Linked DNA regions of Homo sapiens: region 2 is linked to region 1. Evidence: fine-mapped expression QTL. A gene starts in region 1. The other region holds a variant in brackets. All regions are shown on one strand. Distances are from middle to middle. Region 1 holds the start of GRHL3 (grainyhead like transcription factor 3). Region 2 overlaps STPG1 (sperm tail PG-rich repeat containing 1).

Evidence for each region. PIP is the estimated chance that this variant, and not a neighbour inherited with it, causes the effect. A credible set is the group of variants that fine-mapping cannot tell apart.
Region 2: its variant is the best candidate, but not a certain one, in a credible set for the expression of GRHL3 in nasal epithelium (TOPMed, PIP 0.64).

The regions. Positions count from the first base shown.
Region 1 is chr1:24,316,671-24,322,052 of GRCh38, forward strand. It overlaps GRHL3 (grainyhead like transcription factor 3), which reads left to right and starts at 2,687. Exons shown (of 16, transcript NM_198173.3): 1 at 2,687-2,898. The coding sequence starts at 2,882. GRHL3-AS1 (GRHL3 antisense RNA 1) reads right to left here and starts at 5,321. Exons shown (of 2, transcript NR_183722.1): 1 at 4,996-5,321. RefSeq lists a silencer at 5,220-5,359.
Region 2 is chr1:24,397,827-24,403,208 of GRCh38, forward strand. STPG1 (sperm tail PG-rich repeat containing 1) reads right to left here. Exons shown (of 9, transcript NM_001199013.2): 2 at 3,493-3,630. The coding sequence starts at 3,562. Among named protein-coding and RNA genes, the nearest start is that of STPG1, 13 kb to the right of the region's middle. The variant C/T (reference allele first, on the strand shown) is at 3,362.

The sequences.
Region 1 (5,382 bases):
ATATAATTATTATGTTACAAGTAATTGGCTGGTCTCTGTTTATGTTTTTTTAAACTTTGTTTTTTTTTTTTTTTTTTGGAATAGCTGTTCTGTTTTAAATCTCCTCTGCAGAGGAACCAAGAGCTGTGCTGATCCATGAAGGGGAAGTAGGTGCCAGCCTTGCTCAGCCCCACAGGAGCAGGAAGGGGGCAGCAGCAAAGCACGGGGAGTGTCTCTTTAAAGGCCTGGCATCTCTGGGTTGTTGGGATGAAGGCCTAGAAAGCACTTGTACCTCCTGCCTGGGAGGTATAATTCCTACTGAGGGGCCTGGTGACCTTGCAAACTGGCTCATGGCGTTCCTGCCTACCTAGCCCAGACCACCGGTCCTTCTATCCCATCCGGGACACTTCTGTAGCCTTCCTGTGTGTGGAGACGTAGAAACCCTCTGCCCTGTGATTTGGGTCTCTGCTGATCTCTGAAGATGGGTGCGGGTGATGAAAGAGGCAAAACCTAGAGGCAGAGGGAGAGGACCCATTTTTAAAACCCCAGCGAGCACAGACACGCCACCTGGAATCCCAGCCTCCCCTGAGCCCAGTCAGCATGAGTCACCCCACAGCCCTTCACCTGTGGGTTGCAACACGGTTGACAGAAACTCCACAGCCTTCCATGAGGTGGGCAGACAGGTACATACAGAGGAGTGTGCCATCCTTTGGACTGCAATAAGCTTTGCAGTTACAGTTGGCACCAAATAGCCCTTCAGCCACCAATAAGCTCTGTGAAGTGGTTGGGCACCCAGGCTCTGCTCTCGGATTAAATCCCAGCTCTAGCTCTACCACTGCCTAGCTCTGCAGCTTGAGTAGTTTACTTCAGTATTCTGTACCTCAGTTTCCTCATCTATAAAATGGGGGTATCAAAAATGTCTATCTCCCAGGGTTGCTGTAAGGATTAGGCGACACAATGTATGCAAAGGCGCACAATGCCCGGTGCCTGTGGTATATGAAGCACCTACTAGGTGCCAGACACTGGAGATTCCACAGTGAGCGACACAAAGTCTTTGCTCTTATGGAATTTACATTCCAGAGGAAGGGGAGAAAGACAATAAACGATTAGAAAAATATCATAGGTCATATTACATTGTATCATAAGTCATAAGGGCTCTGCAGAGAACAAAAAGTAGTGTGATCCAGAGTGATTGAATGTCTACTTTATTAACAAGGGTGACTGAAGAGGGCTGCTCTGAGGAGGTGGCTTTATTAGCAATTATTTACTATTATTTATTAGGGTCCCCTGGGCTTCCCCCAACACAGCCTCCAGGGAGAAACCAATCTCTGAGAGTTCTCAAACCCAGTACCCCCTCTCCAGAGCCCTGACCCCACCCCAAGAGGGCTCCTTTGAATTCTGACTTTACCCTGAAAAACCTCCATAAATTGGCAGGGGTAGCTGAAACCTCACTTGCCGTTCCCAGAGAAGAGAGAGAGGAGTGGGCCAAGTTGAGGTTTCCAGGAAGACACAGCAAAGAGATAATTTGCCAAAAGGGGAAGGGTGGGGGAGGGGAGAATAGAAAGAGAGAGAGGGAAAAAAAGATGCCAAGATCTCTGGCTTAGATTTAATTTCAAACTAATCCTGGAAGAAGCTCTTTAAAAAGCTCTTACATTCTCCTGTTTGTGTTTGTGGATATTCTGGGGTTTACCAAGCTTGTTCTTTATAGTAGACAGCTCACAGCAATTACTCCACAATTACTTCATCTGACAGGCATTGAATTTCTCCCAAGTTCCCAATACAGAACGAAGCACTTGGAGCCTGTGAAATGACCAGCTGGCTGAGGCTTCAGAGGAGCCTTCAACTTTTCTATCCCTTCTGTGCTGACCAGAGGTATGTGGCTTGCCCACACCCCCTTCACACCCAATAAAAGCCTGTTCTCCTTTACTCCCCCACCCCCTGCCACCAACACACACCCCCCAGATTGTAAACTCCTTTAGAACAGTAACCCCTGTTTTTTCTGGCCTCAGTTTCTCCAGAACCCAGAGTAGGGTCTGGCACACAACGGGTGCTCAATGAATGTCTACTGAATTGAGGCCACTGACTTCAGCCCAAGGGGCAGCCAGACTTGGAGTGAGATGACTGCAGATTGGATCTGGGCTGGGACCTCGCTAGCTGTGCCCTTGGGCAAGGCACTTTGCCTCTCTGGCCTCCATTTCCTCCCTCATCTGTAAAATATGTGTTGAAGAGGAAGGGGGAAGCGATAATAAATCTACCACGGTAGGTTACTTTAAGAACCAAAAGAAGTCACTTGAGTAACTGCAAAAGATTATTCAAAAATATTACCTTAAAGGGGAAACTGAAAAAAAGGGAACTTATACAAAGATCTACCTGGGAAAAGTTGCTCTCTCCTTTGAGAATTCCCCAGTGGTACAGAAGGAGGGGGCAAAGAAATTTGGGGGTGGGGATGTTTCTGGGTATCTGGGACAATGACTAGAAACAGGAATCAAGTTTTCCTTTAAGCCAAGTTATCTGTTTGTCCCTGTACTTTTCCTCTAGTTATCTTGCTTCTTTCCAACATTTTCTTCTCCATCCCTCCTCCCTCATCTCCACCCCCCACCCCCTCACCAAGGAAGGAATTGGCCAGCTCCACCCAGCCAGTCCCCCATAGCTCCGCCCTCCTCGGCGGGCTAAGAGTTAACAGCTGCACCTGTTGAGGTATACCTCCAGTCGCCGGCACCTGTACCTGTAGCCAATCAGCGCCAGCGCTGCTGGGAACCTACCTGTCAGCAAAATCTCGACACCCAAACCTCAACATAAATCAAACACTTTCCCGGGCAGAGAATGTCTGTGTCAGGCAAGAATTAGAGACAAGCGGTCAGCAGAGCCTCAGTGCTGATCGTCGGAGCTTGGGAGCAGGAAGATGTCGAATGAACTTGAGTGAGTAAACATCGGTGGATACCTGCCGCTCTCAGAGCGTGGAGGCTGGATGGGGTTTCCTGGAGGGGGAAGAGCGGGGAGGCCGGCACCGGGATTCACAGAGCAATTTGTAAGGGTAAATGAATGGGCTGACGATCTTACTTTGGCGTGTCAAGGCAAGCCCCAGTCTCAAGCTAGAGGTGAGTGTTTCCCTGGGAAAATAGTTTTTCTCATTCTCTTTGCTGAGCAGTTTCGAGCCAGGCAGGGAAACACAAGACTGAAACTGTGAAGGTTTCTGGCACCACTTTTTGATCCTCTGAAGGGGCCTTGGAAATCAGACGACCCCAATCCCATCGAGGCTTTCTATCTTCTTGCCAAAAGGAACTTCTTTAAGGTAGTTCTAAGAGCTGTCTTAGGCAGAGAGTTGGGTTTCTCTAAAGGGACTTGTTTGCTGGGTTGGAACAGTCCCAAGTGGGAAGGTTACAGTGTGGTGGTTAAGCATGTGTACTCTTTGTAGTGGGCTTGACCTAAGTTCAAATCCAGGCTCTGTCCCTGGGTGATCTCAGACAAGACATTCAATTTTTCTGGGCTTCATTTTCCTCATCTGGAAAATGGGTACAAGAATGCTTTGTAGAATTCTGGAAAGAGTTAAGTGTGATAAATGCTGTAAAATGCTTAGCATAAAGCTATGGTCTGAAGATGCGTTCAGTAAAATGTGGTTCCTCTCATTCAGAGGCAGTTCTAAGGCTGGGGAAGATGAGAAGTGATTTTTGGTAGGTCACCTCTTTTGGCTGGGAGGATGCATGTGCCTTCCTGCCCACATCTGAGATTTAAGATCCTGACTGACTGATGCTGATCTTCACCATGATGTCCTTCTTGGGGTCCAGACCTTAGAGAAGGTAGGGTGAGGCTGGGATCTGGGCTGCTTTAGATTGGGTTCAGGGAGCTGGCAGGAGAAGCCAGAATCCTTTAAACACAGGCTCTCCTTTTCCTGCCACCCTCAGAGGTGAGTGGGCAGAGGCAAGGATTGTACCATCTTTTTTCTAACTGCTCCTCAACAGACTTTTAAGAACTTGAAGATCTGTGGGCAGACAGCAGTGCTAGGTCCTGACTGCAGACCGGATTCTATGTTCTAGCTAGCCCTTCAGCTCTTCATGTTCACAGCACAATCACTTGGGTTAACAGGCACATTTCTTTTGAATGAATTTCCCGGGGTTGACAATGTATTGACAATTGGACCGCAATGAGAATAAGAGCAGGAGCATTGGTACTGACACCTGGGTTCAAGTCCCAGCTCTAGCACTTATAGCTGTGTGATGTTGAGCAAGTCCCTTAATCCTCATCTGTAAATAGTGGCCAACAGTAGTATCCACCTCATGGGGTTGTTAGAGGATTTGACAATTTTAGAATAGTGATTGCTTTTAAGGCTGGTGGAGAACACACCAGTAACACCATTGTCATTTCATGTAGAACTAACCAATCAATGAGCATTCCCAAACCTCTTGCTATTTTTCCATACTTTGAACGCGCAAAAAAATCTTGACATGTGTCTCCATCCCACTTAAATTTGCTGGCTAAAACTGCGGAGGCTACAGACAGAATCTATTCATTACTGCACGTTAGGGGGTATGTGTTCTGAAGCTGGGTTACTTGAACAGAAAGGTTTCTTGCTTTTCTCCTCCCTAATGGTTTGGATTTGAAGTCAGATCCGCTGACAGTTGAGGCTTCTCAGTTTGGGGTGGGGTGAGGGAAGCCAGTTGCCTGCTGAGTAATTGCAGGCGGACTCCAAGCCACCATTTGAGATTACAGTGGCAGAGCCTGGGGGCTCAGCTGCCCCTACTGGTAAGGGGAGGGCACCCGGCGCTTGGCTTGCAAGTTCTGAGCTGCTGTTGCTTCTGCGGCCTCGACATTCTCCTAAAAAGTGCCAAGTTAAGAGGACTGGCCATAGCTTACAGCTTGGGCCCTCATGGAATGGCCAACTCTGGCCAGGCCTTGATATAGTGGCAAAAGTGGGACTTGCCTGTCACTCTAAATTCTGCCACTTACCAACAGCAGGATCCTGGTGAATTTGTTTGTCCTCCCTGACCCTCAGTCTGCTCATCTGTCTGTAACACCTACCTGGCAGGAACAACTGTGAGCTCCCAAATGTGGACCAGAGCTCCATCCGCGCCCGCCCGGTGGCCAGGCCCCGGGTGTAAGGCGGCACTTCGAAGGCTGGTCTCTGAGAAGCATGGAGGCCCCGGCGGTGTAGTTAGAAACCAGCTGGAGGTGGCTGGCGGGTGCTGAGCGCCGGGCCTTTCATGTGGTCGCAGCGCTCTGGGTGCCTGGAGCCCGCAGCCCTGGGCAGCCCCGGGCTACCGCAGGGCGCAAGGGATCCTGGGCTGCGGCCGAGGGCGCCGGAAGTCGCCGCCGACCGCCTGGGTCTCGCAGGAAAACAGCCGGCGCCCGCGAGCTGCCCAGCGTCGGGTTTTCCTGAAGGTGCGTCGGGGCCCCCGGGGAGCTGGA
Region 2 (5,382 bases), 81 kb after region 1:
CATGATGTTTATTCACTGGTGATGTAAATTTGAGTTGTCGCCAGTTTGGGGGCATTACAAATAAAACTGCTATGAGCATTTTATCTACAAGTCTTTAAATGGACATAAGCTTTCATTTTGCGGGGTAAATGCCTAGGAGTGGAATGACTAGATCATATGTTTAACTTTTTAAAAAACTGTCAAACTATTTTTCATAGTCGTTGTACTTTTGCACATCCCCACTATTAGCGTATGAAAATTTCTATGACTTCACATTCTTATCAGCAATGGGAAGTCTTTTTAATCTCAGGCATCCCATTAGGTATGTAATGGTATCTCATTATGGTTTTAATTTGCATTTCCCTAATGACTAATGATGCTAAGCAGTCCTTCATATGCTATTTTCCCTCTGTATATCTTTTTTTTGGTGAAGTAACTGTTTAGTAGATACAGAAAAAGCTTTTCATAAGATCTAATATCCTTTGATGATTAAAAGAAAAACTCTAGCAAACTAGGAATAGGAGCAAACTTTGTTAATCTGATAAAAGGTGTCTATAACAAAAGCCTATAGCAAACAGGATACCAAATTGTGAAATATTAAAGGCTTTCCCTTGAGACAGGGAGTGAAACTAGTACAACTGCTATTATCCTTCTATTCAACGTTGTACTGAAGGTCTCTAGCCAATACAAACGCCTACATAAAATATATTAAAAATACATAAAATATATGGATGAGAAAGGAAGAAATAAAGTTGTCATTTTCACAGATTACAAGATTGTGTATGGGGAAATTGCAAAATAATCTGTGGACACCCTATAAGAGGTAATAGTTGGATTTAGTGAGGTCACCAGAATCAAGGTCAATATACAAAAATCAATTAATTTTTTTGTACAGCAGCAACAAACAATTTAAAATAAAATTTAAAATTACCATTTATAACAGCATAAAAATCAAATGCCTACAATAGATATAATGAAGATATGCAAGACTTCTACATAGAAAACTCCAAAACATTGAGAACAATTTAAGGTAACTTAAATAAAAGGATCTATACATGGATTAGAGAAGTTAATATTTATTGTAAAGATGTAAATTATCCTTAAATTGATTTCTAGAATCAATGCAATCCAAATTAAAATGAGAGTAGAGTTTTTTTAAGACATTAATAAGCTGATTGTAAAATTTGTATAGCTACCCAGATTTGATCATCGCACATTATATTCTTGTATCAAAATATCATGTGTGCACCATAAATATGTACAACTATTATGTATCCATAAAAATTAAAAATAAAAAAGTAAAATAAATTTATATGGAAATGCACTGGGGTCAAGAATAGCCAGCATAAACAAAGAAGTACAAAGTTGAAGGGCTTATGCTACTAAAGAGTTATTATAAAGTTACAGTAATTAGGACAGTATGATATTTGAACAGAATAAATAATCAAGAAGCAGAGCTGCATATGCCTGGACACTTGATTTATGACAAAGGTAGCAACAGCAATACAGAGTAGTAGAGAATGAGCAGCCTTTCAATAAATGGTGCTGGGTCAACATGGAAAACAACAGACTCGGGCATCTTCCTCAATCAAAAACAATTTCAAGTGAATTGTAGATCTAGATGTAAAAGGTAAAATAATAGAGTTTCTAGAAGAAACTATCTTGGGATGGGCAAAGATTTCTTAAGTATTAATAAAATAGACATGTACACTAAACATAAAGAGACTGATAAATTGGGCTATATTAAAATCAAGAGTTTCTGTGTCTTAGCACATTGTTAAGAGAGTGAAAAGGAAAGTCCCAGGATAAGGGATGACATTTACCTACAGCTAACAAATGACTTGTTTCTAGAATAAAGAATCCCTATAAATAAGAAAAGGACAGAATGGTTTAAAGAACTCCTATAAATAAAAAAAAGAAAAGACAAGACAAGACCCAGCAGAAGAAAATGGGCAAAAAAGTTGAACAGTCACTTCTCCAAAGAGAATATCCAAAAGGCCAGTCAACATGAAAAAGTGCTCAATCTCATTGATCTCAGGCAATGCAAATTAAAACTATTATGAGCTTAAAATGTTGGTGAGGATTTGGAGCAGCTGGAATTCACATACATTGCTTGTAAGGAGGTAAAATTGGCACAGCTACTTTGGAAAACTGTTTGGCAATATCAACTAAGCTTACCCTAAACATACCCTATGACCCAGCAGTTCCACTCCTCAGGTATAGACCCATGAAATACATAAATATGTGTCCCACAAGACAAGTACAAGAATAGTTACAGAAGTTTTTATTCATAATAGCCCCAAACTGGAAACAACCTAAATGTCCTTCAGTAGTAGAATAGATAAATAAATTGTGGTGTATTCAAACAAGAGTAATAAAATGAACAAATTACTCATAGATAAGACAAACCAACATGAAGTTAAATCTCTGAAACATAAGCCTGAGAGAAAAGAGCTCATATTGTATGATTCACATTTACATAACATTCAAAAACAAACTAAAGTTATTAATGATATGAGAAGTCAGGATAACCGTAGTGTTTACTTTTGCAGGGAAGGGAGATAATATCTGAGAAGGGACAAGGGCTTTTGAGATGCTGCTGACATTCTGTCTTGGTCTGAGAAGTTATTCCATAGGTGGTGTTTTCTTTGTGAATATTCATTAAGCTATACAATTAGGATTTGTGCACTTTTTCTGAATATATATTTATGCTTCAATTTAAAGAAATGTTAAAGAAAAAGAGAGTGCAAAATCAGAGGATAGGAGGAAGAAAGAGAGATCTCTCTGGATTTGAGAGCAGCAGCGACTCTGGAAGCCCACCAGGGAGGTGGTAACAGCCTCGAAAGAAAAAGCGCTGGAGCCTAGGGGGATCTCAAAATGAGGTTTCCTGTCTCAGCAATAATTCCTAAGCCACACTAACGAACCAGAACACTAGTTGGCGAACACTAGCAAAACCAAAGGGAGCACATGAGCTGGGACACTGGGGATCTCACCAATGTGGATGGTTGACCAATGACCTGAGTATTCCTCCCCACCCCAACCCAGCCTCCTGGGATCACACTAACTATTGGGAAAGTTCTGAACTTGAAACAATCACGAGGGAGATAGGATTTATGCTGATAATGGCTGGAGTTATCCTTTCCAACAACCCAGCAGAATGGGGACTTGCAGTCATAACTCAAGTTGAGTTCTAGGAAATAAAAAAAGATCTCTTACATATCTAAATTTGAGGATAGAGATTCTTACCAGATACATGGAACTAACAAGTCTGGGTTTTGTTTATTAGTTTTTTATTTTTTAACAGACTTCCTCCTTCTTCTCTCATCCTTTCTTCTCAGTTTCTTCCCAATCGTCACACTTGAAACAGTAGGGCCTAAAGCCA[C/T]CTATTTGGTATGCCTGTAAGGATGGCCCTGTGGATATAACCCAGGACTTACTATTCCCCCCAAATTTGCTCTTATGTACTAAAATAAGCATATGTCAGGAGCTATCTCCTCCCTGCAAAGACACATGTACCTTTCTGTACTTCACTGGCACGTCTGGGATGTTTGCCAGTGCGTTCATTTTTCTGTGCAGAGTTGTCCATGTTAGCAAAATTCTGTGACGTGTTCCATTTGTTTGATGAAAAGTTCTACTGCATGTTCTCCTAAGCACCTGAAACAGCAAAACACAGCATTTGTAGAGATCATTTCACATTGGTTAATTATTGCAAATGGGTTCTGTTCTATCTACAGGGTAAACTGAGAAATGGTGTGGGTGCCGGCTGAGATCTACCAAGTGCAGTGACCCAAAGTCCCAAGCACATTGTGCTGGTGCTGCCTGCAGTAGGAACTGCGTAAGAAGTCACTGTTGATGTTGCTTACAGAACTACTGAAGGCTTGGATTTTATTTTTATTTTTTATTTTTTGATACGGAGTTTTGCTCTTGTCACCCAGGCCGGAGTGTAATGGTGTGATCTTGGCTCACTGCAACCGCTGCCCCTGCCTGGGTTCAAGTGATTCTCCTGCCTTAGCCTCCTCAGTAGCTGGGATTACAGGCGCCCACCATCTGTAATTTGTATTTTTAGCAGAGATGGGGTTTCACTATGTTGGCCAGGCTGGTCTCGAACTCCTGACCTCAGGTAATCTGCCTGCCTCTGCCATCCAAAGTGCTAGGATTACAGGTGTGAGCCACCATGCCTGGCCTATTTTTATTTAAATTTAGCTTTACTGAGACATAATGTATACACAAATAAAATTCATCAGTGTTAGTTGTACAATTCCAAGTTTTGGCAAATGTTTACAGCCAAGTTAAATACCACCACAATTAAGATATTAATTTATCTATGATGCTGAGAAGCTCCCTGTGTCCCTTTGCAGTCAGCACCCTCCCAACCACTGCTCTGCTGTCACAATTGTTGCCTTTCTAGAATGTCACAGAAATGCAATCATAGACACTCTTTTTTCACTTAGTGTAATGCTTTTGAAATTCTTCCATATTGTTGCATAGATCAGTACTTTGTTCCAGTTGTTCTACATCCTCACCAACATGTGTTTGCTCAATCTTGTTAATTTTAGGCATTCTAGTGATTTTATAGTGGTATCTCATTGTCATTTTAATTTGGATATTTTCATGTGCTTATTTATCTTCTTTAGTGAAGTGTGTTCAAATCTTCTACCTTTAAAACAAAAAAATTGGGGACAGCCATTGTGGCTCACACCTATAATCCCAACACCTTGGGAGGCTGAAGCGGGAGGATTGCTTGAAGCGAGGAGTTTGAGACTAGCCTAAGCAACATAGTGAGACCCCATCTCTACGAAAAATAAAAAATTAGCCAGCCTGTAGTCCCAGCTACTCTGGAGGCTGAGGTGGGAGAACTGCTTAAGCCCAGGAGATCAAGGCTGCACTGAGCCATGACAGCACCACTGCACTCCAGAATGGACAACAGAGCAACAGCCTATCTCAAAAAAAAAAAACAAAAAAAAACAAAAAAACAAAAAACCACAAAACCCAAAAACAATTGGATTTAATTGGGTTATTTATTGAGTTGTACAAGTTAATACATCTGGATACAAGCCTTTTATCATATATGTTTTGAAAATATTTGCTCCCCGGCTGAGGTTTGCCTTTTTATTTTCTTAACACTATCTTATGAATGCAAATTTTTAAATTTTGATCAAATTTGTCAAAATTTTCTTTTAAGGTTTTAAGATTTCTTTTGTCAGATCTAAGCAATTTTTGCCTAACTCAAGGTCACAAATATTTTCTCCTACATTTTCTTTTAGAAGTTTTATAGTTTTAGCTCTTACATTTAGGCCTAGGATCCATTTTGAATTAAACTGTGTATACAGTATTAAGGTAAGGGTCAGGTTCATTTTATTTTCATTTTATTGCATTTGGAGATTCAATTAATCCAGCACCATCTGC